2 separate regions of the Homo sapiens genome follow, and region 1 is linked to region 2. Evidence: fine-mapped expression QTL. A gene starts in region 2. The other region holds a variant in brackets. All regions are shown on one strand. Distances are between the middles of the regions. Region 1 holds the start of LINC00294 (long intergenic non-protein coding RNA 294). Region 2 holds the start of DEPDC7 (DEP domain containing 7).

What was found. PIP is the estimated chance that this variant, and not a neighbour inherited with it, causes the effect.
Region 1: its variant is fine-mapped to the expression of DEPDC7 in whole blood (INTERVAL, PIP above 0.99).

Annotation. Positions count from the first base shown.
Region 1 is chr11:33,069,693-33,086,596 of GRCh38, reverse strand. It overlaps LINC00294 (long intergenic non-protein coding RNA 294), which reads right to left and starts at 10,447. Exons shown (of 1, transcript NR_015451.1): 1 at 7,143-10,447. TCP11L1 (t-complex 11 like 1) reads right to left here. Exons shown (of 10, transcript NM_018393.4): 10 at 13,047-14,123. The coding sequence ends at 13,921. CSTF3 (cleavage stimulation factor subunit 3) reads left to right here. Exons shown (of 21, transcript NM_001326.3): 19 at 608-702; 20 at 824-884; 21 at 1,308-2,013. The coding sequence ends at 1,510. It also overlaps the pseudogene PIGCP1. The variant T/C (reference allele first, on the strand shown) is at 8,536.
Region 2 is chr11:33,012,232-33,024,295 of GRCh38, reverse strand. It overlaps DEPDC7 (DEP domain containing 7), which reads right to left and starts at 8,418. Exons shown (of 9, transcript NM_001077242.2): 1 at 8,268-8,418. The coding sequence starts at 8,340. LOC105376615 (a long non-coding RNA gene) reads left to right here and starts at 8,506. Exons shown (of 4, transcript XR_931167.2): 1 at 8,506-9,019. RefSeq lists silencers at 8,144-8,203, 8,524-8,573.

The sequences.
Region 1 (16,904 bases), 60 kb before region 2:
GCCTGGTGGCATATACATGTAATCCCAGCTACTTGGGAGGCTGAGGCAGGAGAATCACTTGAACCCGGGAGGCGGAGGTTGCAGTGAGCCAAGATGGTGCCATTGCACTCCAGCCTGGGCAACAAGAGCGACACTCTGTATCAAAAAAAAAAAAGGAATGCTGCTATGTGCAGATTACCTGAACAGCTGGTGGAAACTTTCTTCACTGATAGATTTGGTTTCTTTACTTAGGAATGGGTTAGTAGCCTCTCTAGATTCTTTTTGAACAAGGCCCTTCTGATTAAATACACTGTTGAATAATTGACTTGAAACAGGATTGCTAAACAAATGACTTGTGTAACTCAGAAACACTCTTTGACAAAAACTGACTTTAGTTCAGTCCCTGGTTGTCTTACACAAAGTCACTTGTCTACTTCTCTGCCTCCCAGTGGCCACGGCATTGAGACTGCTGTCTCACCCACTTTGGTTTGGTAAAGCCCTAGAAGTATTTTCAGTGTCCAGAACAAAGCAGCAGACATGGAAGATCTTTATGTGCAAGTCACTTGATTTTAGCTCTGTGTAGAAATTCTTCCATTCCACTTGATTCATACTTTTCTTTTTCTCACAGCTCCAGGTTTACACCCTGTACCTGGTGGAGTGTTCCCAGTCCCTCCTGCAGCTGTTGTTTTAATGAAACTTCTCCCTCCTCCTATCTGTTTCCAGGTTTGTTCACTTATTTTCATGGTAGATACTGGCTCTGTGGGTCATAGTAATTGTGTATAAAGTTACTACTACTTTAACTTGTCAGATTACTGGGATTAAAATTTATTCATGTCAAAAATAGGGTCCTTTTGTACAAGTGGATGAACTGATGGAAATTTTCCGAAGATGCAAGATACCAAATAGTAAGTAACAGAAGCTCCATTTCAGAGTGTCATTCCACGTTGTTGTCTCATAGGCAGTAGAGATTATTATTCTCTGCCACTGAAGTTTTCGAAACCAGCCAGCCAATTTGAAGTGCAGTGAAACCCAGGAGTTACCCAAACCCTCTTTGGCAGAGAAAGGCTTATTCACATTGAATTCCACTAAGTAAAATGTCATAAAACTTTATCTTTTCTATTCATGTGAACATGCACTATCAGGCTTGGCTTATGAAAATTATTAGTTTTAACAGCAGCTTTTGTCTTTTTCTTTAATTATTTAGTATCAGTAGTACTATCCCATGTTTTGCTAAAATAGTAGGCTATGAAATAAAGTATCCACAGTTGAACATACATACCCTTTCATAGTGGAATATGTTTTTACGTTTTGTTGTTTTGTTTTAATAGCTGTTGAGGAAGCTGTGAGGATCATTACTGGTGGGGCCCCAGAGCTAGCTGTAGAAGGCAACGGCCCCGTGGAAAGTAATGCAGTACTCACCAAGGCCGTCAAAAGGCCCAACGAGGATTCAGATGAAGATGAAGAAAAGGGAGCCGTTGTCCCCCCTGTTCATGACATTTACAGAGCACGGCAGCAGAAGCGGATTCGGTAGGGTTTTAAACGCCTCTGCAGAAAACTCCTGTCCAGGATTCCTTTTGCCTCAAGTGGTATGTTTAAAAGAGACAACGCTTTGTTACAAGGTTCTTGGAAACAAAGTTGTATTGTCATTGGTGCCTCTATCACATGGTTCTTGAGAAAAAACAAACCAACCTGTGTGAATTTTAGAATACGGAACAGACCTATGCTCTAAGCAAAATTAGGTTTTCAAAAATGTGAGAACAGTACAAAGTGGCAGAACCACATTTTGTTCCCTCTTCAAGGGTGTCTTGTATGTGCCGCTTGAAGATTTGTGAGTTTTTCAACAGTTTTATTTTAAAAACTGGATGGCTTATGATTGTAAAGCATTTTATCACATTTTCTGAAAACAATTGTTCTTGGTTTGCTTATGTAGAGTCCTGCCTTATTGTTTGTTTTTATTTATGGCAGAATGTATGAAATCCGTTTTGTAGTTTCAAATTTTAAAAGTCCTTTAAAAAATAAAAGGATTCAGAAACATCATGCTTCCTCTGCTTCTTTCAGATTTTATTTACAATAACTACTTATGTTATTTATCCAATACCATTTAAAAATAAATGTCAGGACAAGGAAAAGTCATCTTGTATTTACTGAATGTATTAATCACATACTCTTTCCTGGTCTGTCTTTTTTGGTGCTAACTAAAAACATTTTTAAGAGGCAAATTAAACATTTTAGAAATCCTCAAATATGAATGCATTTGCTCCCCAGTAAATCTGAGGCAGATTAAGATCCTGTTAATACTTTTGTCTCTCTTGAAAGCAACCTAAGTGTGGAAATTCCTTTAACCACCTGCTGTCTTGTTCTCACATAGAGTATCTCTTATCTAAAATACTTGGGACCAGAAGTGTTCAGGATTTTGGATTTGTTCAGATTTCAGAATATTTGCATCATACTTACCAGTTCACCATCCCTAATACAAGAGTACAAATTCCACAAAACTCCACTAAGCATTTTCTTTGTGCATCATGTTGGCACCGAAAAGGTTTTGGATTTTGGAACATGTTGGATTTCAGATTTTCAGATTAGGGATACTCAACTTGTATATTTTCACAGGGGCCCAGTGCTCAAGAACATTTTTTTTTCCATGAGCTAAACATAGATAACATTAAGGAAAATGACATTTATTTAACTAAATTCTAATTACAGTGAGCAAAAACTTGTCATGCAAATTAAGTCCAAAGAACTAGACTTTGCTCTTTGGTAACAACATTACCTCCTCTTCTCATTACTAGTTAAAAACTAAAAAGCAGGAGGGAAACAAAAAGGAGGGGAGGACAAGTATTATGATTATAAAGAAATGATCTTACATATTAGAAACAATTTAGTTTAGAATTTGAATTCAGATGTGATTAAATAATCTGACATTTAAAATCAGCTTCAAATGTCCCATAAAAGTCTTACTTGTAAAAAAAGGTTATGCTGAATCATTTACTCATATAAATTTATATGTAGCAAGGTTATATAAATTGGTCAAAAGTGTGTTTAGTTTCCAGTATTTTCCCATTAAAGCTAAAAATCGCCTCTCAAAACAAAGTCAGCTGCCTCTAATTCAGACTTTCTTATCCTTTCAAGCATCACTTTCAAGTTGTGAGTTTTTTAAAAATATCAGTTACCATCAAAACTTAAGACACAAGTAGGCCAGGTGTGGTGGCTCACTCCTGTAAATCCCAACACTTTGGAAGGCCGAGGCGGGCAGATTATTTGAGGCCAGGGGTTCAAGACCAGCCTGGCCAACAAAGTGAAACCCCGTCTCTACTAAAAATACCAAAAAAATTAGCTGGGCGTGGTAGCCCAAGCCTATAATCCCAGCTACTTGGGAGGCGAAGGCAGAAGAATTGCTTGAACCTGTGAGGCAGAGGTTTCAGTGAGCCGAGGTAGCGCCACTGCACTCCAGCCTGGGTGACAGAGCAAGACGCTCTCCAAAAAAAAGACAAGTAATACCATATGGCATAGACTTTAAAATACAGAGATGTAGGCTGGGCGCGGTGGCTCTTGCCTGTAATTCCAGCCCTTTGGGAGGCTGAAGATTACTTGAGGCCAGGAGTTCGAGGCCAGCTGGCCAACATAGTGAAACCCTATCTCTACTAAAAATACCAAAAAAAAAAAAAAAAGTTAGCTGGGCATGGTAGCACAAGCCTGTAGTCCCAGCTACTCTGCAGGCTGTGGTGGGAGGATCACCTGAGCCCAGGAGGCCAAGGCTGTAGTGGGCCATGATTGCACCACTGTACTCCAGCCTGGGCGAAAGAGTGAGACCCTGCTTCAAAAAATATATAGAGGTGTAGACTTGTTCCTGAAGTGCCATTTTTGGTGGTTAGTATCGGGGGTGAGCAGCGACTATCTGGGGCTGGTGGTGTGGGGGTAAGAAGAATTTACCAAGACAATAGTAGGTAGAGAAAGGTAGATTAGAGAAGGTATGAAAATGCACTGCAAGGTTGGAACAGGCAGAGAAGATGCTTGTCTGCAAAGAGACAAAGGCTTGCTGGGGATTTTATAAGATAGTGCCATGTGCTGAAGAGGGTTTTATGTACTACTGAGAATGCCAGTGTTGCAGTGAGCTAACTTGCAGGTGTCTGGTGATAAGTTGGGTGCAGTACGGCTACATGTCCTGGACCATGAAGAAAGGCAGACTCATAATTTATCTGCTTTTCCCTGCTCCCACCAGCCTGACTCCCTTTCCCTAATTAGGACTCCACAGTTAGTGTTTTGAAGACAAACAGGCCGGGCGAGGTGGCGCACGCCTATAATCACAGCACTTTGGGAGGCCAAGGTAGGCGGATCACCTGAGGTCAGGAGTTCAAGACCAGCCTGACCAACATGGTGAAACCCTGTCTCTACTAAAAATACAAAATTAGCCAGGTATGGTGGCACATGCCTGCAATCCCAGCTACTTGGGAGGCTGAGGCAGGAGAATTGCTTGAACCTGGGAAGGAGATGTTGCAGTGAGCCGAGATCGCACCATTGCACTCCAGCCTGGGCATCAAGAGCGAAACTCCGTCTCAAAAAAAAAAAAAGAAGACAAAACAGTTTCAAATACCTGTAAGTGATCTGCCAAAGTGTTCCCACAGACAATAAAACAAAGCCATGCGAACATGTGTGAAAAACCATTTTTTAGCGTGTGTGCGCGTGCGTGCGTGCACACACGCACACACACACTTGGTGAAAAGTGTCTTTAATCACTTTATTAGTCCATTCCCACAATGCTATAAAGAAATACCTGTGACTGGGTAATTTTTAAAGAAAAGAAGCTTAACTGGCTCATGGTTCCGTAGGCTGTATAGATAGATTAGTGGCATTTGCTTCTGGAGAAGCTTCAGGAAATGTATAATCACGGCAGAAGGTGAAGGGGAAGAGGGACGTTTTACACGGCCAGGGCAGGATGAAGAAAGGGGGGAGGTGCCACACACTTTTAAACAACCAGATTCCATGAGAACTCACTGTCACAAGAACAGCACCGAGAGGATGGTGCTAACCCTTTCATGGGAACTTCACCCCCCTGGACCAACACCTCCCACCAAGCCCTACCTCCAACACTGGGGATTACAATTTGACATGAGATTTGGTGGGGACACAGATTCAAACCATATCAATTATTATTAAGGCTACTATGTATATTATAATTGTTCCTATTGCATTTATTTATAGGATTTTTTTCTCCTAGAAATGATCAGCTCTTTGAGCATAAAAAGGATTCTCATTAGAAGAAAACATTTTCGAATGTTCTAACTGCTAGAGATATGTATGAATTTTTAGTTTTTAAGGTGATTCTGCCTGATATTTGATAATTCCTTTTGTTAAACAGTTCAACAAGCAGCATGATGTTAGACATCTGAACTTACCTTTGGAAATCTAATGTGCAGACTCATGGGATAATCAGTCCTACAATTCCAAGGACTCATATCAGTATTGCTGGACCCAAAGAAATTGCCAAAAGATATCCATCTTTTTCCTGTTTATAAAAGCAATGACAGCATCTCCTCAAGATTCTAGAACTAGACAAAAGTTTCAAGGACTATATGTATGTCCTTCCTAAACAAAAATTAGTCAAACTCTGGCCTTTACCACTAAACTTCAAACAAGAGGTTGCACCTATGTGGCCACATCTAGTACAGTAAAAGGTTAATAGAAACTACTAGTAAACTTTCTGAACAACCAAACTGTACCAAAGAAAAAGAAGGAAAAACACATCATTTCTGTTAGTATATTGACCCTGGTCAATAATTATGAATTTATTTGATATTATAACCCTGTATTGGCCTATAGTTAATAAATGTTGAGTTCAATTTTATTAAACCATAGTCATCATGGTCATAAATTATTATTATTATTTTTTTTAACATGGTAGTTCTTTGACTGTGGCAATGAGCAAGTGAACTTACGTTTTACTTAATAAAAATTTCAGCCAGGCACGGTGGCTCACATATATAATCCCAGCACTTTGGGAGGCCAAGGCGAGCAAATCACCTGAGGTCAGGAGTTCAAGACCAGCCTGGGCAGCATGGTGAAATCCTATCTCTACTAAAAATACAAAAATCAGCCGGGCATGGTGGCGCACACCTGTAATCCCAGCCACTCGGGGAGGCTGAGGCAGGAGAATTGCTTGAGCTTGGGAGCTGAGATTGTGCCACTGCACTCCAGCCTGGACAACAGAGTGAGACTCCATCTCAAAAACAAACAATCAAAACAAAAGAAAACAAAAATTTTCATAAGTCTTTTTGTTTGTTTTGAGACATGATCACAGCATAATCCTCCCACCTCAGCCTCCCAAGTAGCTGGGACCACAGGCATGCACCACCATCCACCATACCCAGCTAATTTTTTAAATTTTATGTAGAAACAGGATCTACCTGTGTTGTCCAGCCTGGTCTTGACCTCCTGGGCTCAAGCAGTCCTCCCACGTCAGCCTCCCAAACTGCTGGGATTAGCCACCATGTGAAGCCCTTCTTTTTTTTATTTTTTATTTTCTTGAGATAGGGTCTCACTTTGTCACCCAGGCTGGAATGCAGTGGCATGATCTTGGCTGAATGCAACCTCTGCCTCCCGGGCTCGAGCAATCCTCCCACTTCAGCCTGCTGAGATGGGAGCACAGGCCTATGCCACCACGCCTGGCTAATTTTTGTACTTTTAGTAGAGACAAGGTTTTGCCATGTTGCCCAGGCCGGTCTAGAGTTCCTGGCCTCAAATGATCTGCCTGCCTCGGCCTCCCAAAGTTCTGAGATTACAGGCGTGAGCCACCTTGCCCAGCCCCTCTTGTTTTAAGGTTACTTTTAAGTCAAGAAAAGTGACACTCCATCGAACCAGGCCTATAGCTTAGTTCTGGTTCTTAAGTTCGGTAGGCAATAAATGTAAGTCAGGTGTGACAGAAACCCACATGAGGGACAGTTTTAAGTAGAATTATATGTTTAGACTTTTAACACATATTTTGTAGAACTCTGGCTATTTCTGAAAGTACCAGTGAACACTTGATCGTTTAATAAACAGAGCTTACCTGGGCTTAAAGATTATCCCCTTCCCCACCCATTGAAGTTGCTTTGAATACTATGACTAAAAAGGCTTTCCATTAAAATAATTATATAATGCAAAATCCAATATAAATACACACTTGCAAATATCATTGTAGTTATTTATTTAGATTGTTTTTAAATGAGATAGTGCCTTTAAATATGACTTCATAGCCCATTATCCATTACCATTCATTCATCCACTCATTTGTTCATTCATGAATTCATTTAGTTCAAATAATATAGAGGTGGAGATGGGGAGAAATCACTGGGGTGGGGGTGGATGTCAGGAAGTAAGCAAATGTAAGACTGCAGCTCTAGTATAGAAGAGATGATGAACATAAACAAGTCTTAGGAGAGGACAGGAAGAAAACCTTCCCTGTAGGCCCGTAAAATGTGCTTGAATGAAGGGAGGTTGGGCGCTACCAGTGGAACGTAACACCACAGCAAATGTGCGCCCACAGGTAGAGGGTTACATGTTCGCCTTTGTAGTTAAAAAAGAAAGGTATAGTCCTTTTCCATGTACAAAGCATTCTATCATTCATTACCAAATGTAATCCTCACAGCAACAGTGTGAATTAGGAGTGTTCCCATTTAACAATGAAAATGCCGAGGCCTTGGGGAGAATGGCTGGTCCAATGTTGTACAACCGGTAAGGCGGCGATAGAGGAGAAAAGACTAAAACCCAGATCTTTCTCTAAATTAGGAGCTTTGTGCACAATCCTGCTACCACCAAATGTTAGAATCGGAAGGGAGCTTAAAGACCAAGTCTAGTCCTTTCATTTTAAAGGAGTTGGGAATGGGCCCTGATTTGCCCCAGCTGGTACATAACAGAGTGGAGATCCAAGCCTTGGTTTCCTGACAGCTCCCAGTCTTTCCACTCTACCACCTGGCCTCAAAATGAAAAGAAACACAAATGTTCTACCTATAAATCAGAGCTCGCCAAAAGGTCACTAGAAATCAAACAGCAAACACCTATTCTCTTTGAAATTCACCAGCAAAGCTGGTGGCAGCAACATTTCCTCTATTCCCAGGAATCTTAAGGCTTTGGAGAAATGAGAATAAGCACCTCCACAAAAACAGAACCGCTGAATAATCCATTTAGAATCTTGGCCAGTATGTGCATACTATAGGCCTATTAAGTCAAACTTATTAATAGCTTTTCTTCACAGAGAAAAAAGTTCATATATACCTACTGACTGCATTTGATCAGTAAGATATCATGTCAGTGTCCTTCTTACCTGAAGTACATTTATGGCTGGGTCATATCGTGACATAAATAATCACATTTTGTAGCTTGCTTTAGACGGAATGCGATTTTTTTTTTTTTTGAGACGGAGTCTCGCTCTGTCACCCAGGCTAGAGTGCAATGGCGCAATCTCGGCTCATTGCAACCACCACCTCCAGGGTTCAAGTGATTCTCCTGCCTCAGCCTCCCGAGTAGCTGGGATTACAGGCACGTGCCACCACACCCGGCTAATTTTTGTATTTTTAATAGAGA[T/C]GGGTTTTGCCATGTTGGTAAGGCTGGTTTCGAATTCCTGACCTCAGGTGATCTGCCCGCCTCAGCCTCCCAAAGTGCTAGGATTACAGGCGTGAGCCACCGCGCCCGGCTGGAATGAGATTTTTAAAAACACCAGGACTGAGAATCCATCCACCCAACCAAGAGCCAACAAAGTAGTAGTTACTTTAAACATTCACTTATCCATGAGACTACTGAAGAAATCCAAGAGGCTTGGTGATACTGACCTCACTCTCAGTTCTATCCACAAGTAGTAAAGTACTGCCAAATACACTTAGCAATTTCAGGAAAAGACACTTGTCTCCACAACCTGTTACTGAATGCAGCATATAGAATCCATTCGATTCTGGAGGACAACACACTCCAAAGGATGTTTCGTTTTGGAAGGAGAGCTGTAGGGGAAGGTACAGGGGGATGCTTAGCAATGCTTCCTGAGTGACTAAATGAACGAAGTGGATCTCCCTGGCCCTTAGTAATAATCCTATGAGATTCCAGGAAGAAAATTAGCTTATCTTCATAGAGCAACAACAAAATGATTCAATATGAATATTGTGGTTCTGAAGTTTGCTTCCTTCATTCTTGACTTTTGCCAGTTGCAGAACTCCACCAGTGGACACCGAGGTAGTGGGCGGCCAAGAGTCTGTGAAGCCAGTTATTCATGCATCAAGATTTCAAACGGTCCAAATGGAACTCTGGCAATGTAAGAACTCAGGAGGGGAAAAATATCTTGCAAGAATCTACTCTTACAAAAGAAGAGTTTTTGAGATTTAGGAAGAATGACTGCAGGAAGTGGTGATCAGCGCTGTGCAGTTGGGGTTAAGCTCCTCTCCTTCAGCCTTGGAGCGGCAGGAAAAGGCCCCAAACACTCTGAGGCTGAGGCTTCTCTGCCCAGGAACCCAGGATCATACAACCGCCAGGCACAGTGGCCACAGAGCAGCCTCCACCTTAAGGGAACAATTCCAGACACGACCTCATTGAATACACCATGGAAGATGTTATCTTCTTTAAAAGTACCCTCATGGCAGGGCGCAGTGGCTCACGCCTACAATCCCAGCACTTTGGGAGGCCAAGGCGGGTGGATCACGAGGTCAGGAGATCGAGACCATCCTGGCTAACACGGTGAAACCCCGTCTCTACTAAAAATACAAAAAAATTAGCCAGGCATGGTGGCAGGCGCCTGTAGTCCCAGCTACTTGGGAGGCTGAGGCAGGAGAATGGCGTGAACCTGGGAGGCAGAGGTTGCAGTGAGCCGAGATCGCGCCACTGCACTCCAGCCTGGGCGACAGAGCAAGACTCCATCTCAAAAAAAAAAAAAACCCTTACAAGGAAAAAGGCAGGCAACTGCCATCTCCCAGTCACGCATCCCCAGGAACTTGGCTGTATTATATCCTGCCTCAGAGACAAACTCATCTATTGTAGGCCTGGCCTGGATTGCTGCCTTTGAAAACAAGGAAAGGTCAGCAGAATATCAACCAAGGCATGGAATTTCCAGGGAGGTCTCATTTCAAAATGTCATCAACAAGAACCACATGGACCTCTGTGAGAGGGATGATTAAACTAGCCTGAGTTTGAATGAAAGGATTATGTGTACCCAACCTGTAACAAACACCAAGGAGGTAAAGTGGCAGAGGGTCTTGTATGAGCAACAGCCCTTTCCTGATAACTTTGTGGACCGGCGGTTCCTGGAAGAGCTCTGGAAAAACATCCATGCTCGGAAATACCAATATTGGGCTATGGTATTTGAGTCCAGTGTGGTGATCCCGCAGCTGTGCAGTGTTTTTGTTTTTCTGGTTATCTGGTGGTATATGGATGAGGGTCTTCTGGCCCCCCAATGGCTTTTTGGGACTGGCCTGGCTTCTTCACTGATTGGGTATGTTTTGTTTGATCTCACTGATGGAGGTGAAGGGCAGAAGAGTGGGTGGACCCGGTGGGCTGACCTGAAGAGTGCCCTAGTCTTCATTACTTTCACTTATGGCTTTTCACCAGTGCTAAGACCCTGACAGAGTCTGTCAGCACTGACACCATCTATGCCATGTCAGTCTTCATGCTGGTAGGCCACCTCATCTTTTTTAACTATGGTGCCAATGATGCCTTTGTATCCACTGTATCCAGCACACTATCCTTGAACATGGCCATCTTTGCTTCTGGATGCTTGGCTTCCACCTTCCCCAGTCCCTGCATGTCTTCATCATGGGAACACTTGCCATCCAGATTTTTGTCCTGTGGCTCATGCTACAGAAGAAACTAAAGGCACGGACTCCCAAGGGCTATGTGGTGGTCACACTGCTTTTTGCCTTTTCGGTCTTGGAAGGCCTACTGCCTATTAGTGCTGTGGGAGCCGTACTCTTTGCCCTTCTGTTGATTTCTATCTCATGTCTCTGTCCATTTTACCTCATTCGCCTGCAGCTTTTTAAAGAAAATATTCAGAGGCCTTGGGATGAAGCTGAAATCAAGGAAGACTTGTCTAGGTTCCTCAGCTAAATTAGGGACATTCTGATAGACTAGCCTCCTAACTAGTATAAAACTTAAAGACAGGCCGGGTGTGGTGGCTCACGACTGTAATCACAGCACTCTGGGAGGCCCGAGGCGGATGGATCACGAGGTCAAGAGTTCGAGACCAGCCTGGCCAACATGGTGAAACCCCGTCTCTACTAAGAATCCAAAAATTAGCCGGGCATGGTGGCGCGTGCCTGTAATCCCAGCTATTCAGGAGGCTGAGGCAGGAGAATCGCTTGAAACCGGGAGATGGAGGTTGCAGTAAGCTGAGATCGCGCCACCACACTCCAGCCTGGGTGACAGAGCAAGACTCCGTCTTGAAAAAATAAAAAATGAACCAAAGGCTTGGGTGGTGAGGGTGCTTATCCTTTCTGTAATTCTGTGGATGAAAAAGCTTTCTGGGACCCTCTTGAATTATTCGCTGTAACAAATGAAGTGATGTGGTTTCTATTAAAAAAATAATAATGCATTCAAACAAACAAAAATAAATAAATATGAATAAAAGTACCCTCACAAAATGCAGCCAGTCTGCCAGATTACAGTGACCCAGATTCTCCAGTCTCCTGCCTGGGACCCAAAAAGATACATCTGGCTCTACTTTTTTTTGTTAAGGAGAGACAGGGTCTGGCTCTGTCACCCAGGCTGGAGTACAGTGGCATGATCATAGTTCACTGCAGCCTCAAACTCCTGGGCACAAGTGATCCTTTTGCCTCAGCCTCAGCTTGTAGCTGGGAGTACAACTGTGTGCCACCACAACAGGCTAATTTTTTTTGTATTTTTTGTAGAGACATGATCTCACTATGTTGCCTAGGCTGGACTTGAAATCCTGGGTTCAGATGATGCTCCTGCCTTGGCATTCCAAAGTACTGGGATTATAGTGTAAGCCACCATGCCCAGCCCTGTTTTTTGTTTTGTTTTTTTAATTTATCACATCATTATAGATTAGAACCAACATCAGTGCTGATCTGCATACATGTAATTTCTACCTGAGTTTCTATAGCCAGATCCAAGTCCTTGTATAAACCCTGGGACCATCAGCAATCTCAAAAATCCTGAAAGCAGAATGTATTCTGACTCTACCAGGTCTGAAATCCTTCTCATGGAGTATCTGATTTCCTCCCCATCAGTCCTATTGGAATACCTACCCAACTGCTTCTTCAAGTCTTCCTTCAAAACACAAAATCACTGCACTTCCTTACAAAGAAGGATCAGAGAAAACAGCTGCTTGCAGTAAAATGTAGCCCTTCCCCCTGGTTGTGCAGGAGTGGCTGCTGGCCTTCCTGGAGTCTTTCTGAAATGGCTTCCAAGTTTCTTTTCTTTTTTCTTTTTTTGAGACAGAGTCTCACTCTGTTGCCCAGGCTGGAATGTAGTGGTGCTATCTCAGCTCACTGCAGCCTCTGCCTCCCGGGTTCAAGCGATTCTCCTGCCTCAGCCTCCCAAGTAGCTGGGATTACAGGCGCGTGCCACCACACCCAGCTAATTTTTGTATTTTTAGTAGAGATGGGGTTTCACCATGTTGCCCAGGCTGGTCTCAAACTCCTGACCTCAGGTGATCTGCCTGCCTCGGCCTCCCAAAGTGCTGGGATTATAGGCGTGAGCCACCACGCCCGGCTAACTTGTAAGTTTCTCTTAGCTTCCTGTACAGAAGGCTTCAGGTGCCGATATTACTGCATTACTCATACAGTAATATAGTCTTACCCCTTGCTGTTGTGGCAGTTGGTCATTCCAACTTCATGGCTCTGCTTCTAATATAACATCCCTGTCTAAAATGCAGACATACATGTGTACACTTTAAAAAAAAAAAAAAAAAAAAAAAAAGAACAGATCGTCTATGAGACCCAAATCACTCACGCTCAGAGGACATGTCAGGAATTCTGGTCACTGAAGTTCCTTGAAAAATAATGCTCAAACACCAGGGATTTCCTATGACTTCCTCATCTAGGAGATTCGTGAACTCAAGCTATTTTATCTGAAAACAGTTAAATCTAATTCCAGAATTTAATTCAATCATCACATCTGTGTATTGTCTCAGGGTCAATTTTTCAGTAAGAATTCCAGACATTTCTCTTCGTTCACATTACAGTAAACTATTTTTCAATACATTTCCTCCTTGACTTTCAAGGCTTGAAAGTCAAAGACTTTCCTTTCACTAGATCTCATAAGTCATAACTGCTCTCAACCAGATGCAGGAGTAATTTTGTATAAAAGAACAAGCTTTTTAAAGTCCAATAACTGTATCTTTGGGGGAAGGTTAAAAGAATGTTTAAATACAAAAAAGAAAGTAAAAAAAAAAAGAGAGAGAGACAAATAACTCTCCTCTAGAAAAAAGGGCTTGGGAGCCCTGGCTAGGCCAGGCAGGGAGGAAGCAATAAATAGGGGGAGAAAATGGCAATAAGACGTTATATAGCCCTTCTAACAAAAATACCAGAAGGGAGGGGTGAGGGACAAGGCTGTCTGAGGGAGGGCAGGAGGTGAGGCCATGGCTTGGTCTCTTTTGCGCTTGGATGGCCGTCAGCTCAGCATGAGGCATCTGAAAGAACTACCCAGATTGCAGAAGAGAGAGGTCCCAGCCTCCTTGGAAGGACATGATGGGGGAGGAGTGGAGACAACAGCTGAGTGTTACCTGTAAAACTCGAGAACAAAATGCTTCTTTGATTTGTAAACTTGCACTCATAAATACAATCTCTCAAAATAGAATTCAGTGGATTTCTCAACAAGTCTTTTCAACAGTGATACACAATATTCTTCCCTTTGGAATCGGTGCTGTTAAATAGACATGTACTATATAGCCATTTTCCAATGCAACATTAGAGTACAGAACAGGTATTCTGTGGCTAGTGAGTAATACTGCTGCTGTAGGGTGCATACACGTTAGGATCGGACGAGGATCTTACTCAGGATTGCATCGTAGTAGGGACAGAAGACCATCTTGTTATAGTTGACCAGGCGAGCAAATTTAATAGCAACTTCCTCCAGCTCTCTCTGAACTGGACTGAGTCCCCCAGGGACTGTGGGCAATGGCTTCTGATGACCCGAGGCAAGGTAGGTTTCTAAGAAGGTCAGGATTCGAGATTCTGTGACAAAAAAGAAAGTGGTCAGTTGTTTCTTGTCCTTCACCTTACAAACCTTACTGTGCTTCAGTTCTTAGCTTAACCATCACCTCTTAGGGGAAGTTGTCCCCGATCAATACTCCCAGACCAGATACCCACAGCACCTTGCACTTCTGCATATTCATCCCATTTATAATGTTTTCTCTCCCCTCTAGATGGTTAGTTTCATGAAGGTAGGAGCCATGCTCATCTTGTTCATCATGTCTCCTCAGCACTCAGCACAGTGACTGGCATGAGACCCAGCTCCCAGGAGAAGCTCAAACACACTTGGAATGCAAGAATGAATGCATGAGTGGCCAGGCGCGGTGGCTCACGCCTGTAATCCCAGCACTTTGGGAGGCTAAGGTGGGCGGGTCACCTGAGGTCAAGAGTTCGACCAGCCTGGCCATTGTGGTGAAGCCCCGTCTCTACTAAAAATATAAAAAGTAGCCAGGTGTGGTGGCGCACACCTGTTGTCCCAGCTACTCGGGAGCCTGAGGCACAAGAATCACTTGAACCCAGGAGGTGGAGGTTACAGTGAGCTGAGATCATGCCATTGCACTCCAGCCTGGGCGACAGAGCCAGACTCTGTCCCCAAACAAAACAAAACAAAAAAAATGAATGAATGCATGAGTGAGTAAAGGAAGACTGGAGACATGCTCTGCTCTCCGAGGAGCAACACATCCTGAGACCATTGTTAGCCATCGCTGACGATCACATAAAAAGGTGGAAGATTAAAGCAGGAATTACAGGTTCAAAAAAGACTTTTTTCCTACTAAGCCTCCATGAAAGCAGCTCGTGCTTCCTTCTCTGATGCCTGCATGGAAGTCATGGGCATTTGTAAACTTGTCCTACTTGGAGGAATAATTTAGGTTGATGCTTTTCTAGTCCATTCCCCTTCACAATGCTTTTGTACTCTTGTGTATCCTCATGAAAAAAGATTTGATCAAGCCACACTTCTTGCAGATTTTATCACAAAAACAACAGAGACATTTATATGGAATAGACTTTTTCAAACTACATGCCTTGCCTCCTGCCTGGGGAATCCTCTCAGGTGCAAATAACTTATACCCTCCTGAGCCTCACAACACAGACAGAAACTGCTGACAGGACAGGGCCTAACACCCTTACTCTTTTTTTTTCTCGAGACACAGTTTCACTCTGTCGCCCAGGCTGCAGTGCAGTGGCACAATCTCAGCTCACTACACCTCCGCCTCCCGAGTTCAAGCGATTCTCCCCACTCTGCCTCCCGAGTAGCTGGGATTACAGGCGCATGCCACCATGCCCAGCTAATTTTTGTATTATTAGTAGAGGCGGGGTTTCACCATGTTGCCCGGGCTGGTCTTGAATTCCTGACCTCAAGTGATCCGTCTGCCCCCGCCTCCCAAAGTGCTGGAACTACAGGAGTGAGCCACTGCACCCAGCCCTATCACCCTTCTTCTTTTTTTTTTCTTTTTTGAGATGGAGTTTCCCTCGTCTCCCAGGCTGGAGTGCAGTGGCGCGATCTCGGCTCACTGCAACCCCCGCCTCCTGGGTTCAAGTGACTCTCCTGCCTCAGCCTTCCGAGTACCTGGGATTACAGGCACACGCCACCATGCCCAGGAAATTTTTGTATTTTTTGTAGAGACGGGGTTTCACCATGTTGGCCAGGCTGGTCTCAAACTCCTGACCTCAGGTAATCTGCCCACCTTGGCCTCCCAAATGCTGGGATTACAGGCATGAGTCATCACACCTGGCCCTATCACCCTTATTCTTTTTTTTTTTTTTTTTTTTGAGACAGACTTTAGCTCTTATTGCCCAGGCTGGAGTGCAATGGCACAATCTCGGCTCACCACAATCTCCACCTTTCAGGTTCAAGCGATTATCCTGCCTCAGCCTCTCAAGTAGCTAGCATCACAGGCATGCACCACCATGCCTGGCTAATTTCGCATTTTTAGTAAAGGCGGAGTTTCTACATGTTGGTCAGCCTGGTCTCGAACTTCCAATCTCAGGTGAACTGCCCGGCTCGGCCTCCCAAAATGTTGGGATTATAGGCATGAGCCACTGTGCTCAGCACCCTTATTCTTAAGTTAGTTTGGTTCTCTAAGGTTCCCAGGGCTGGCAGCCTCACTGAAGTAGAAATCTTTGTATTGTTCCTACCCAAAGACTGGTTTTTCTTTTCTTTCTTTCTTTCTTTTAGAAACAGGGTCTTGCTCTGTCACCCAGGCTGGAGTGCAGTGGTGAAATTGTAGCTCACTGCAGCCTCAAACTCCTGGGCTCAAGTGATCCTCCTGCCTCAGCCTCCCGAGTAGCAAGGACTACAGATGCATGTCACTAACCTGGCTAATTTTTTTTTTTTAATTTTTTGTAGAGATGGGGTCTCACTATGCTGCCCAGATAGTCTCGAACTCCTGGTTTTAAGTGATCCTCCCCTTAAGGGCTGGTTTTCAATCTGTCGGTAACTGGCTATTACAAAACAACCCAGGCAGCAGGATGAGTAGCAACTTGCTGGCCACAGGTCTACTTACAGGCACTTTCCTGCCTCCCTATGAAGGTTGTGAGTATAAATCTTGGCTGGATGCAGTGGTTCGTGCCTGTTAACCCCAGCACTTTGGGAGGCTGAGGCAGGCGGATCACTTGAGTCCAGGAATTTGAGACCAGCCTGGCCAACAAGGCAAAACCCCATCTTTAGAAGATATACAAAAAATTAGCTGGGTGTGGTGGTGCATGCCTGTAGTCCCAGCTACTTGGGAGTCTGAAGTGGGAGGACTGCTTGAGCCTGGGAGG
Region 2 (12,064 bases):
TTGCAAAGACAGAGTACGCACAGAAGAAAGCAAGATTTTTGCCAAACACAAAAGGAGAAAAACAAACTTTCAAAAATATCCTATCACATTTTTCCTCATTGTAATTAGCAGATATTTGGAAATCAATAGGAAAGAAATCAGGTCTTGGGTTTTTGTAAACCGATGGAATGGATTCCAGTGAATCACTCACTTGGTGGCTGGCTGGCTCCCTCCCTTTTTTCCTTTCATAAAGAGTAGGCCCTTTAATGTGTTACACTTTTCAGTGATCCTCTGAAAATTCAGCAGTCTTAATTTAAGCCCCCATTTATGTTAAGTATATTACTTCCTTTATTTTTAGATATTTTGGCAGAGAAGGTGAAGTTATTACTTCCTTTAAGATCGTCTAGAAAGGAAAACCATATGCATGAGTACAATGGTAAGGAAAAAAGGGAATTATAATTAAAGAAATTGCTACTTGAAATTATCTTCCTACTTTTTTAGGCAAAATAGAATGTTTAAGATGAAGAAAGCATAAGATAAGCTCCTGAAGGACATTATTAAAACTCCTTTACAGCCTGCCGAAGGTGGTGAAACCCTCTCTACTAAAAATACAAAAATTGGCCGGGCGTGGTAGCAGGCACCTGCAATCCCAGTTACTCAGGAGGCTGAGGCAGAGAATTGCTTGAACCTGGGAGGTGGAGGTTGCAGTAAGCCAAGATAGTGCCACTGCACTCCAGCCTGGACGACAAAGCAAGACTCCGTCTAATAAATAAATAAATAAACAAAAACTCCTCTTAGTGCACTAGAGCCATAAATTATAAGTGGGTCATTTGAAATTCATCTCTTACGTTGCAATAAATATAAGGAGTACACTGAACCACTACACTGATTTCACTTGTAGCATAATTCTGTAGCTACTAGCAATTTAAACATCTTTATAGTGAAAATGAATAGCATATACACAAATACACAGTCCTTTATTGTTTATTTGTATATTTCTAATACCAAAAGTAGATGGGTAATTTACCACCTACCCATTATTATAACGTTGGTTTAAAATGATCAGCAAGATTTTTTTTTTTTTTTTGAGACAGAGTCCCTCTCTGTCACCCAGGCTGGAGTGCAGTGGCGTGATCTCGGCTCACTGCAAGCTCCGCCTCCTGGGTTCATGCCATTCTCCCACCTTTAGCCTCCCAAGTAGCTGGGACTACAGGTGCCCGCCACCACGCCCGGCTAATTTTTTGTATTTTTTTTTAGTAGAGACAGGGTTTCATCGTGTTAGCCAGGATGGTCTCGATCTCCTGACCTCGTGATCCACCCACCTAGGCCTCCCAAAATAAGCAAGATTGTTTTTAATTGTCAAAATTGTATTTTAAATTTGAAGATATTTCATAAGCCAGTACTAAACAAAGATGGAAGTAATTGTTGCCAGTCTTCCAAATATAATGTGAGCTATTTCAGGAACTGAATTATGGAGAATTGACTAAATAAATCAAGCTGGAATTAGATCTACTCTTGGTACAGTATTTAGTCTCTGTTGAACAGAGCAAGAATGAGGCATTTGATGGAATCTCAGAGTAAGTCCAGGTCATTTCTGGTATCCAGAACTCAGGAGTAGTTGTACTATTTCCAGCCACAATGCCTAAACATTGTTAGCGACTAATATTCTTAACTTCCTAAAATACCAGAGATTATAAATAAGATTTAAAATAAACAATTTCTGCTTAATTTTTCAAATCTTTATTATTAATAGCTAACATTTGAGTATTTACACTATGACAGGCTCTGTCTTCTCGCATTTAATTCTGATAAGCTTCTCTGCAAAATGATTATTAATAATCCTATTTTGAGGAAATTGAGGCTCTGTGAGTTAAATGTGCCCACAGTTACACAGCTGATAAATATATACTAGTGTTTCCTAGTACTTAAACATAAATATATGAAAAGTCAGCCATCAGATAAGTTGTTTAAGCATTAACCTTTCACTGGAAACTTGGATTAAGTGAAACAGCTTTAAGAGAGCCAAGAGATAAAACAAACTCTAAGAACCCTTAACCAAGCTATTTAAAAACAGTAGTCACTACTCATAAAATAAGGCAGGATATCATAAATTCTGTAATAAATACTACCACAGTACACAGGGTAAGACAGGAAAAGGAAGACATGCAAGATTCAAACTTCAATCAGACTGCCTTTTAAGAACCAATGAGACAGACTTTTGGACTAGTGATAATATAAAGATGAAACACATAAGTCATAACACTTGAGCTATAAGTAGGTTAGCACACAAATCCTAAATGACAAGGCTGAGTCACTTATTAATTACAGATCAGTAAGACAGCTGAAGAGGGCGGTGAGAGGGGATATTTGGCCTCAATGAGTAGAAAAGGCTAATCTTCACAGAAGAATTAAGAGGTAAAGAATAAATTTCCCCATATTAACTTGTGGGAAATCAGGAGGTTCTGCAGGTTGTATAACACTGCATAAAAGATTAAAGAACTAGTTAGAGCAGGAGAGTAGACACCTGTGAACCACAGGTTTCCAGAGTCCTCCAGGCATGATACAATGCAGCCCTCACAGGTCCCCTCTGTTCTCACTGACCATTAATTCCCAACCATTGCATCCTGGGATATTTCCCTTCAAGCACCACCACCCACAAACTAGCTCATGTTCATACAGATGCTTTCATACACAATGTACCCTGGACTTGACAAGTAAATGTGCCAAAACCCATACCAGGATAACCTGCTTTTTAAAATGCTGACTTCACCAGCTGAACATATATGGTTTGAAACTTATTTATCGTCATTTAAAAGCTGAAATGAATATTGGTATAGCAGATCATGGCCCAGTAAGATGACTTACTGTGATTTCTAAACAGGATTTAAGAGACCAAAAATAGACAATGAATGTTTTTTAAGTCTTGCAATCAGAATTAAGGGTTCAGCTTGTCCTCAAACCTCACTTTCATATGAGCTAAACAACCTTTTAAAATCCATCACTATCTACATCTTGATGCTTCCTTACATTTGGTCAAGCATTTTCTTTTTTTTCTTTTTTTTTTTTTGAGATGGTGTCTCACTCTGTCGCCAGGCTGGAGTGCAGTGGTGCGATCTTGGCTCACTGCAACCTCCAACTCCCTGCTTCAAGTGATTTTCCTGCCTCAGCCTCCCAAGTAGCTAGGATTACAGGCACGCGCCACCACGTGCAGCTAATTTTTTTTTGTATTTTTAGTAGAGACAGGGTTTCACCATGTTGGCCAGGATGGTCTGGAACTCCTGACCTCGTGATCCACCCACCTCGGCCTCCCAAAGTGCTGGGATTACAGGTGTGAGCCACCACACCCAGCCTGGTCAAGCATTTTCTAAAAGCATCATAACAAATGGAATCAAAGAGTTTAGAGATCAGCTGTAAAAACTCTGGATAAGAGACAATCTCTGTAAGTAGGTTTCTTTATCTACTGATAAAATAGTTGAACACAATATTTTAGGTTAGTTTCAGGTCTAAACTGCCAGGGCAGGCACAGTGGCTCATGCCTCTGACCCCAGGACTTTGGGAGGCCATGGCGGGAAGATTGCTTGAGGCCAGGAGTTCGAGGTTACAGTGGGCTAGGATCGCACCACTGCACTCCAGCCTGGGTGACAGAGTGAGATCCTGTCTTTAAATAAACTGATTATAGGAATGTAAAGACTGAAATTATATCTCCTCCATTTAGATAAGGACATTGAACACCAAATATGGCAGATCTATAGGCAAGAAAGGAAGCATATGGACAAATTTGACCCTACCAGATACAAAACCTTTTGGAAGGTTGCCTAAGGAGGCTCAGGAATAATTTGATTATCTAGCCTTCAACACATAGTCTCAAGCACTATATAAATCTAGGCTAGTTAACCTTCATTTTTCAAGCAGTCTCATCCTTATTTGCTTGAAAACAATAGCTATTTTTCAAAAGCTGCCCTTCACATGTATTTGAACTCTACCATAAAAAACGTTTACCAAAAGTAAAAGTTAAACTTCTAAGATAATATTGAACACTTATATATACGTGTAGTACCAGTAATAATCATCCTCACTTCTAAGAATTCACACTAAATAACTGAGTCATAATAATTCCCTAAAAATGTAAAGAAATTACATTTACCCAAAAATTAGGGATAATCAGCATCAACCATAATCCACCCTGTCAGCAACCCTAGTCCTACTGTGAAAACCTATGAAAACCTATTTAAAGGGAAAACAATTGTATAATCACTTCAAATAGTAAGATTATATTAAATCTTTAGAAGTAGATCAATATACACATTATAAAATTGGATCCCAATGTAAGGTAAACATACACACAGAATTAATAAAACACACTACCTCTTAATGAACATATAACAAATTTGTTTCCATTCTCGGTCTTTAGACTGGACTTAAAAAAAAAAAAAAAAAAGGAACTGAATCCAGACAGTTGATGTTTCTCCATAAAACTTTTAAGAGATGGTGAGCTAGTGCCCGATTTCTTTCAGATTTCCTAGCGGTTTACAGAGGTTTAAATTATTTAATTGCCTTACAGATTGCCTCAATATAATACAATTGGTTAGTCAATATTTGTTAGTTGTTAATTATTGCTAACTACTAAAAAACTTACTTTTTTTTCTTTTTTGAGACAGAGTCTCACTTTGTCATCCAGGTTGGAATGCAGTGGTGTGATCTCGGCTCACTGCAACCTCTGCCTCCTGGGTTCAAGCGATTCTCCTGCCTCAACCTCCTGAGTAGCTGGGATTACAGGTGTGCGCCACTACACCCAGACAATTTTTGGATTTTTAGTAGAAATGGGGTTTTGTCGCATTGGCCAGGCTGGTCTCAAACTCCTGGCCTCAAATGATCCACCTGCCTCAACCTCCCAAAGTGCTGGCATTACAGGTGTGAGCCACTACACCCCGTTCATAAAAAAAATTTTTAAAGGAAGGTTAACCCAGTGGTTCTCAGTGGGTGATTATACCCCCAACAGGACATGTCTGGAGACATTTTTGATTGTCACAATGAGTGTGGGTATTGCTGGCATCCAGTGGGTAGAGGGATGCTACTAAACATCTTACAATGCACAGACAGCACCCACAACAAAGAAAACGTCAGTAGTGCCAAGGTTAAGAAACCTTGGGTTGACTGAATACTGTTCAGACATGGAAACTTGAGTTAACGCAGCAGACACAGTGCTAGGTGCTGTGACTACAAAGAGTTAGACCAGTGTGGACTCTGCAGTCCCAGGGACCTGAGTTCCGTTGTTGGGTCCATCATTTACTAATAACACGATCTTGGGCAAACTGCCTAACTTTTCTGTTGCAAAACAGAGCTAACTCCACTTCTCTCACTCATTGCGAGGATCATGAGACAATATGTTAATGTGTCTCGCAAAATGTCCAGAAATTAACAGATGTATCACTAAAAACAAAAGGAGCAAACTGTCACAGTCTAGAAGAGTAGATTCATTACATGACAACTGAATGTAATATAATATCTTGGATGGGATCCTGGAAGAGAACATTAGGCAAACACCAAGGGAATCTAAGTGTGGACTTCAGTTAATAATTATATGTATCAATATTGGTTCATTAATTATGACAAATGGACCATACTATTTAGTGAATCTAAAATTTTATTTTAAAAGTAGAAAGAAAAGGGAGGTATCTTTCTTCCTCTTCCTTCCTCTGAACTCAGAGGACACAGTCCCCAACCTTAGGAGTTTACCTTTTATTTACTCCTACTACCTGGATGATAATGTCAAGTTCTGAATAGTATTCAATCACATAAAGGCCAACAGGAGATGAGAAGACAAGATGTGACACATACCAGAGGATTTAACTTTTCATCAGAAAATAACACATCTATAAATCCTAGACCATTTAGGATTTAAGAGAATTTTAAGAAAGATTTTTTCAAAAGAGGTTTTAAAATATTACTCACACAAAGAATTGTCAAGACAACAAAGAAAAAGGACATTTGTTGGATAGTAACCAAAACCTCATGAAAATATTAATAGATAAATGTAAAGAGAATTGTGTTTATGGTGTTAAAACTTGACAGTTGTGACTGAGTGGAAAAATTTTCTATACTATGATCCCAAGATTACAACACTTTTACTGGATATTGGTTCTGGTAGTCCAAAGTTTATTTTCCTGCTAGTTGGCATTAGAGGCGTCATGCTGAAGACTGCGATTGCCTCTGAAAAGAAGGCTGCAGGTAGGTAAAAGAAGTCTACCAACAAGAAAAATTTACAATATCTACGAGAATTATCAGCAAAAGCAGACATTGGTCTCTGCTTTAATTCACATACATTAATGAGACAGCATATGGGAAGTACTTTGAGCTCCCTGGAAAAGTGATACCAGGCAAACTCAAAGAATTAGGTTACAGTATAAAGGGATAACAGGATAACAGACTACTTTCTTGTTTGTCGTATTAAAAGACAAGTGTTTTTGACATACTGGCTGAAGACTGGCATATAGATCTCATTTCTTGTACATAAATCAGGTCCCTGGTCATTACAGCCCCTTTAAGGTAAGTGAGAGTTACTAATCGGTGGAGAAACAAAAGTACAAAGCTGCCTGCCAGAGCACACAGAAAGAGAATGGCAAAGAACCAATAACCGTGTGCTCCCACTACCTTGCTCACTGGAACTATGACAAGGCAACTAAAGGGTGAAAGAAAGGCTAACAAATGTTACCAGGTCGGGATTCCAGCGGTAGCAAGCAAAACGAGTGAGAACAACAGCGGGCCCCTCTCCGTCCACTGCAGCTAGTGTGCCGAGGACAGTGTTCCTTTGATTCCTGATAACCAGCACTTCAACTCTTCCCTTAGAGAGTTATCTACTTAATTTCTGAATACATACTTCCTTACACCATCTAAGAACCTGTTCACAAATGCCCAAAGCTCCAGAATTGGTATTTCAGCTATTAGAGAAAACAGGGTACCATGTTTTTATTTTAAGCAGGTGACATTTGGGAATTTCCTTCACTGAGTAAGTGGGCCCAAAAGATTTCTCAAGACTGTTTTCAATGTCATTTGGTTTTAAATTCCCAAATGTCTTAGCATTTGTCTTCTCTTCACAACATAAATCAAGGAGACATTCTCAATGTGGCCACTATGTGCTTACCTGAATCCTTTACATGGAAGCAGACTAAGGTCAATATTATGATTTTTCTTAGAAAAGGACAAGTGAAAAATGGTTCTCTACCATAATCTGTCGTTAGCATTTTGAAGATTAAAATGAGCATTAGTGAGTAAGTCAAACACAAGAGTGGGGCCACTGAGAAGCACCCATTTGACCCAGAGGAAGGAATCACAGTTTCACTGGTTGGTGTTTTTACAAATGAAAGGCTTTTGTCAGAAAGGGAACTAATTCCTACGACATCCCAGACTGGAGCTCCAGAAAGGGGAAAAAGTTGTAACTTAACCAAAAGAAAAAAGCCAAGGGTTATCTGAGTATCTTAACAGTTATCTGAGTCACCCCTATTAACTGGGTTGTAGATCTGCTATAACCAGCATTTTAGAAGTGATATCCGATTCTCTTCATGTGTTTGAACATTTAAAGAAACCAGAATCCTAAATCAACTGCCCCCAAAAGACACGATTAGGCCCGTGGCAGAATTTGCCAACTTCCCTCCTAATTTCATGTAACTGTTTTTTTAGCCAAAAACTTCTATTCACTAAAATACTGCTTATACATAAAGTGTTAATAAATACCTTTTATGCCAAATTCCTGCCAGTAGAACTCACATAAACCTCTCATCCCTCCCAGGAAGAGTCTGGGGAGACAAGCTGACTCTTGACTCCTAGCAGTCTGGAGAACAAAGTGGGCAAGGGAGGAGCTCGGCCCCTGGCCATACTGTGTCGTCAAGGTTTGTGGTTGAGACAGGGGGCAAAGAACTACACAAATTCCAGATACCACACTTGTCACCGGTAGCACCGCGGAGCATATCCCGGAGCTCCCCGGCGCGTGCCTGGCACGTTAGCGGGCGCACAGACCAACGCGCGGTCAAGTTGAGAGTCTGGGTAGAAAGAAAAAAGCTGGGCTGTGCGGGCGGGCTCTGCCGCTTGCAGCCCACCAGCCAGAGAGGAACTCGATCCGCCCGCTCGGCGGGGGCGTTGGCCAAGTGGTCGCAGCTGTGCTGTGCTCGCCCAGCCGGCCGTTGACAGGCGCAGGCGGCCGAACGCCCCACGCCGCCCGCCCCGCGCCGGGACCCAGCCCGCGCACCCCAGCCCGCCCCGCGCCATCCCAGGCGGCAGTCCTCGGCACCTACCCGGAGGCCTGTGCGCGGGGCTGTGGAGAGCCGAGAGGTTCAGCGCAGCAGCCTTCTCCTGCACGGTGGCCATGGCCCTTGCTCCCCGGACGCCAACTCCTCCAGCAGCTTCACAGCTCCCTAGCTCCCTGAGCGCCCGTCTGTTAACTGTGCGGGGCGTGGCTCCCTGCAGGCCCCGCCCCCGCTGCCGGTCACGTGTCTCTCTGGCAACCACTGAACGTAGCCCGCGGCGCCAGCGATCCAAGTTTCCTCGGGCGCGATGCCACGCGAGCGGTGGTCGGGGACAAAGCGGTTCCCTGGGCCGGCACTACGCGGCCCGCGGCTCACACCAGCGGGATTCGAACCGCGGCCTGCCGTAGATTAACTCGGGACCAGGCCGGGCGCGGTGGCTCACGCCTGTAATCCCAGCACTTTGGGAGGCCAGGGCAGGTAGAGCACCTGAGGTCAGGAGTTCGAGAGCAGCCTGGCCTACATGGCGAAACCCCTTCTCTACTAAAAATACAAAAATTAGCTGGGCTTGGTGACAGGCGCCTGTAATCCCAGCTACTCGGGAGGCCGAGGCACAAGAATCGCTTGAACTCAGGAGGCGGAGGTTGCAGTGAGCCGAGATCCACCACTGCACTCCAGCCTGGGCGACACAGCGAGACTCCGTCTCAAAAAAAAAAAAAAAAAAAAAAGAAATAGAAAAAGTCGGGAACCTGGCAAGCTGCCTAACTGCTCTGTGCGTCGGTGTCCTCACCTGTGATGCGGGGGTAGGTTTAGTACCTGCTTCACTGAGATGTTTGTTTGTTTTTTAACGAGGTTTATAGGAACCAATTCAGGTTCAGCATTTAGTAACTGCGTCCGGAACGTAAGTGCTTAAAATTATGTCATAGTAGTAGTAGTAATAGTGATAATAACAATAATAATCGAGTTTTTCAGACATCCCTACCTGTGCAGAACAAACAAATCCTATGTGGCCCAGGAGAGCAATGTCTAGAGGTCACAGGAGGGCAGCAACGAAAGACCCTGGGACTGGCTGCCAGGAAATCTGTGCTGCCTCCAAAGGAACTGTGGGTCGGGTGGGTAGGGACAGTTTGCTGCCGGTTGGAGTGAAGGTGAGGAGAGAAAAGGAGGAAGGGCTATTAATGGGACACATCTTAGTTACTTGGAAGTTGAAGCCAGGCCAGGGATCCAATGCTGGATACCTCTGAAAGGATGAGTGGTCTTAGAGACCAATAATCCAATTGCCAGACACTTGCCCTTTTTTTTTTCTTTTTTTTCAAGTTTGGGAATTTTGCAATGATTTTCAAAACGATTATGACGTCTTCTTAGAAGGAGGATGCTTGTGTGATTTAGGTGTAAATTAGAATGGTGTTTAAGTGGGAGTTCATTATTTAGCTTATTGGAAAGAGCTTCTACATGGGATTGTTTCAGAGAATACATACTAAGAAGCTGCCCCTGGGGACTTGGGTTTGTGGGTGGGAGGTGGGGGCCAGTTGCTGCTGCTTAGTGTTAGAAAAAGCTGGCCAGGCACGGTGGCTCACGCCTGTAGTCCCAGCACTTTGGGGGGCCCGAGGCAGGGGGATCTTCGAGGTCAGGAGTTCGAGAACAGCCTGGCCAAGATGGCGAAACCCCTACTAAAAATACAAAAACTGTCCGAGTGTGGTGGCAGGCACCTGTAATCCCAGCTACTTGGGAAGCTGAGGCAGGAGAATCGCTTGAATCCAGGAGGCGGAAGTTGCAATGAGCGAAGATTGTGCCACTGCACTCCAGCCTGGATGACAGAGTGAGACTCCATCTCAAAAAAGAAAAAAAAAGGTTGCCAACCAGTTGGCAACCTTTTTTTAATGTGACCTCTTCCCCTGATGGTAGTAAAACCCTGCTTTACTTCTGTTTAAGGATTTTCTTTGTAATCTCTCAATTGGCTGCTACACACAGAAAGAGGATGCATTCAGGGCTGGTTTCAGGCACCCAGTATACCAATGAACTTTATCCCGTGCTGTATAACTGAATGAACACACAAGTCCTCCCTCACTGCATGGGAGGGGGGAAAAGCTCATCTGTCTCAGAAGACAAATCTTGAAAAACACTAATATTTGAAAAAGCTTGGTGACCTCAGTGACCATTTTGATACTTTATATAACATTTCAGAGAGTTTTTCACCAGGTTATGCAATAATTGTTTACCTCTTCTGGAATGCTGAAATGTTCATCTCTACTCAGATACTTTCTACAACCATGGGATAGGAAATGCCTATCCCTTTTCCCACTTTCTTCCCTGGACAGATTTTTCCAGGTTACCCGGGTGTGTTTTTTTTCTCTGAGCACCTGTGGCACTTATCAAATGCATTACTATTCATCTCCTGCTTGTATTGATACTCTCTGATTATTACAGCACACACATATCTTTTTTTATTATAATTTAAGTTCTAGGGTACATGTGCACAACATGCTGGTTTGTTACATATGTATACATGTGCCATGTTGGTGTGCTGCACTCATTAACTCGTCATTTACATTAGGTATATCTCCTAATGCTATCCCTCCCTGCTCCACCGACCCCACGACAGGCCCCAGTGTGTGATGTTCCCCTTCCTGTGTCCAAGTGTTCTCATTGTTCAATTCCCACCTATGAGTGAGAACCTGTGGTGTTTGGTTTTTTGTCCTTGCGATAGTTTGCTGAGAATGATGGTTTCCAGCTTCATCCATGTCCCTACAAAGGACATGAACTCATCCTTTTTTTATGGCTGCATAGTATTCCATGGTGTATATGTGCCACATTTTCTTAATCCATTCTATCATTGATGGATATTTGGGTTGGTTCCAAATCTTTGCTATTGTGAATAGTGCTGCAGTGAACATACGTGTGCATGTGTCTTTATAGCAGCATGATTTATAATCCTTTGGGTATATACTCAGTAATGGAATGGCTGGGTCAAATGGTATTTCTAGTTCTAGATCCTTGAGGAATTGCCACACTGTCTTCCACAATGGTTGAACTAGTTTACAGTCCCACCAACAGTGTAAAAGTGTTCCTGTTTCTCCACATCCTCTCCAGCATCTGTTGTTTCCTGACTTTTTAATGATCGCCATTCTAACGGGAGCACACACATATCTTAATTGCCTAAGAAAATTGGAAAATTGCCGGGTGTGGTGGCTCATGCTTGTAATCCCAGCACTTTGGGAGGCCAAGGCTAGCAGATCACCTGAGGTCAGGAGTTCGAGACCAGCCTGACCAACATGGAGAAACCTCGTCTCTACTAAAAATACAAAATTAGCCAGGCGTGGTGGTGCATGCCTTCAATCCGAGCTACTTGGGAGGCTGAGGCAAGAGAATCACTTGAAACCGGGTAGTGGAGGTTGCAGTGAGCTGAGATAGCGCCATTGCACTCCAGTCTGGGCCAACAGGAGTGAAATTCCATCTCAAAAAAAAAAAAAATTGGAAAATTGTCCAGGGCATGGAGCATATTTTAACCTCTTGGACTTCTTTCAGCATTTGTGCATTGCTGGGCAAATAGTAGATGCTCTGATTGTCCCCATCAAAATACAGAGCTTTAAAAAATATCAGTTTCCTACTTTTTAAAGTTTAAAGTTTAGTAACTTCTAATAGAAAAAGTTCTTTTAAAAATCCCACCTGGGTGGTGGCTCATGCCTATAATCCCGGCACTTTGCGAAGTTGAAGCAGGTGGATTGCTTGAATCCAGGAGTTTGAGACCAGCCTGGGTAACATGGCGAAACCCCATCTCTACAAAAAAATACAAAAAATTAGCAGGGCATGGTGGTGTGCGCCTGTAGTTCCAACTACTTTGGAGGCTG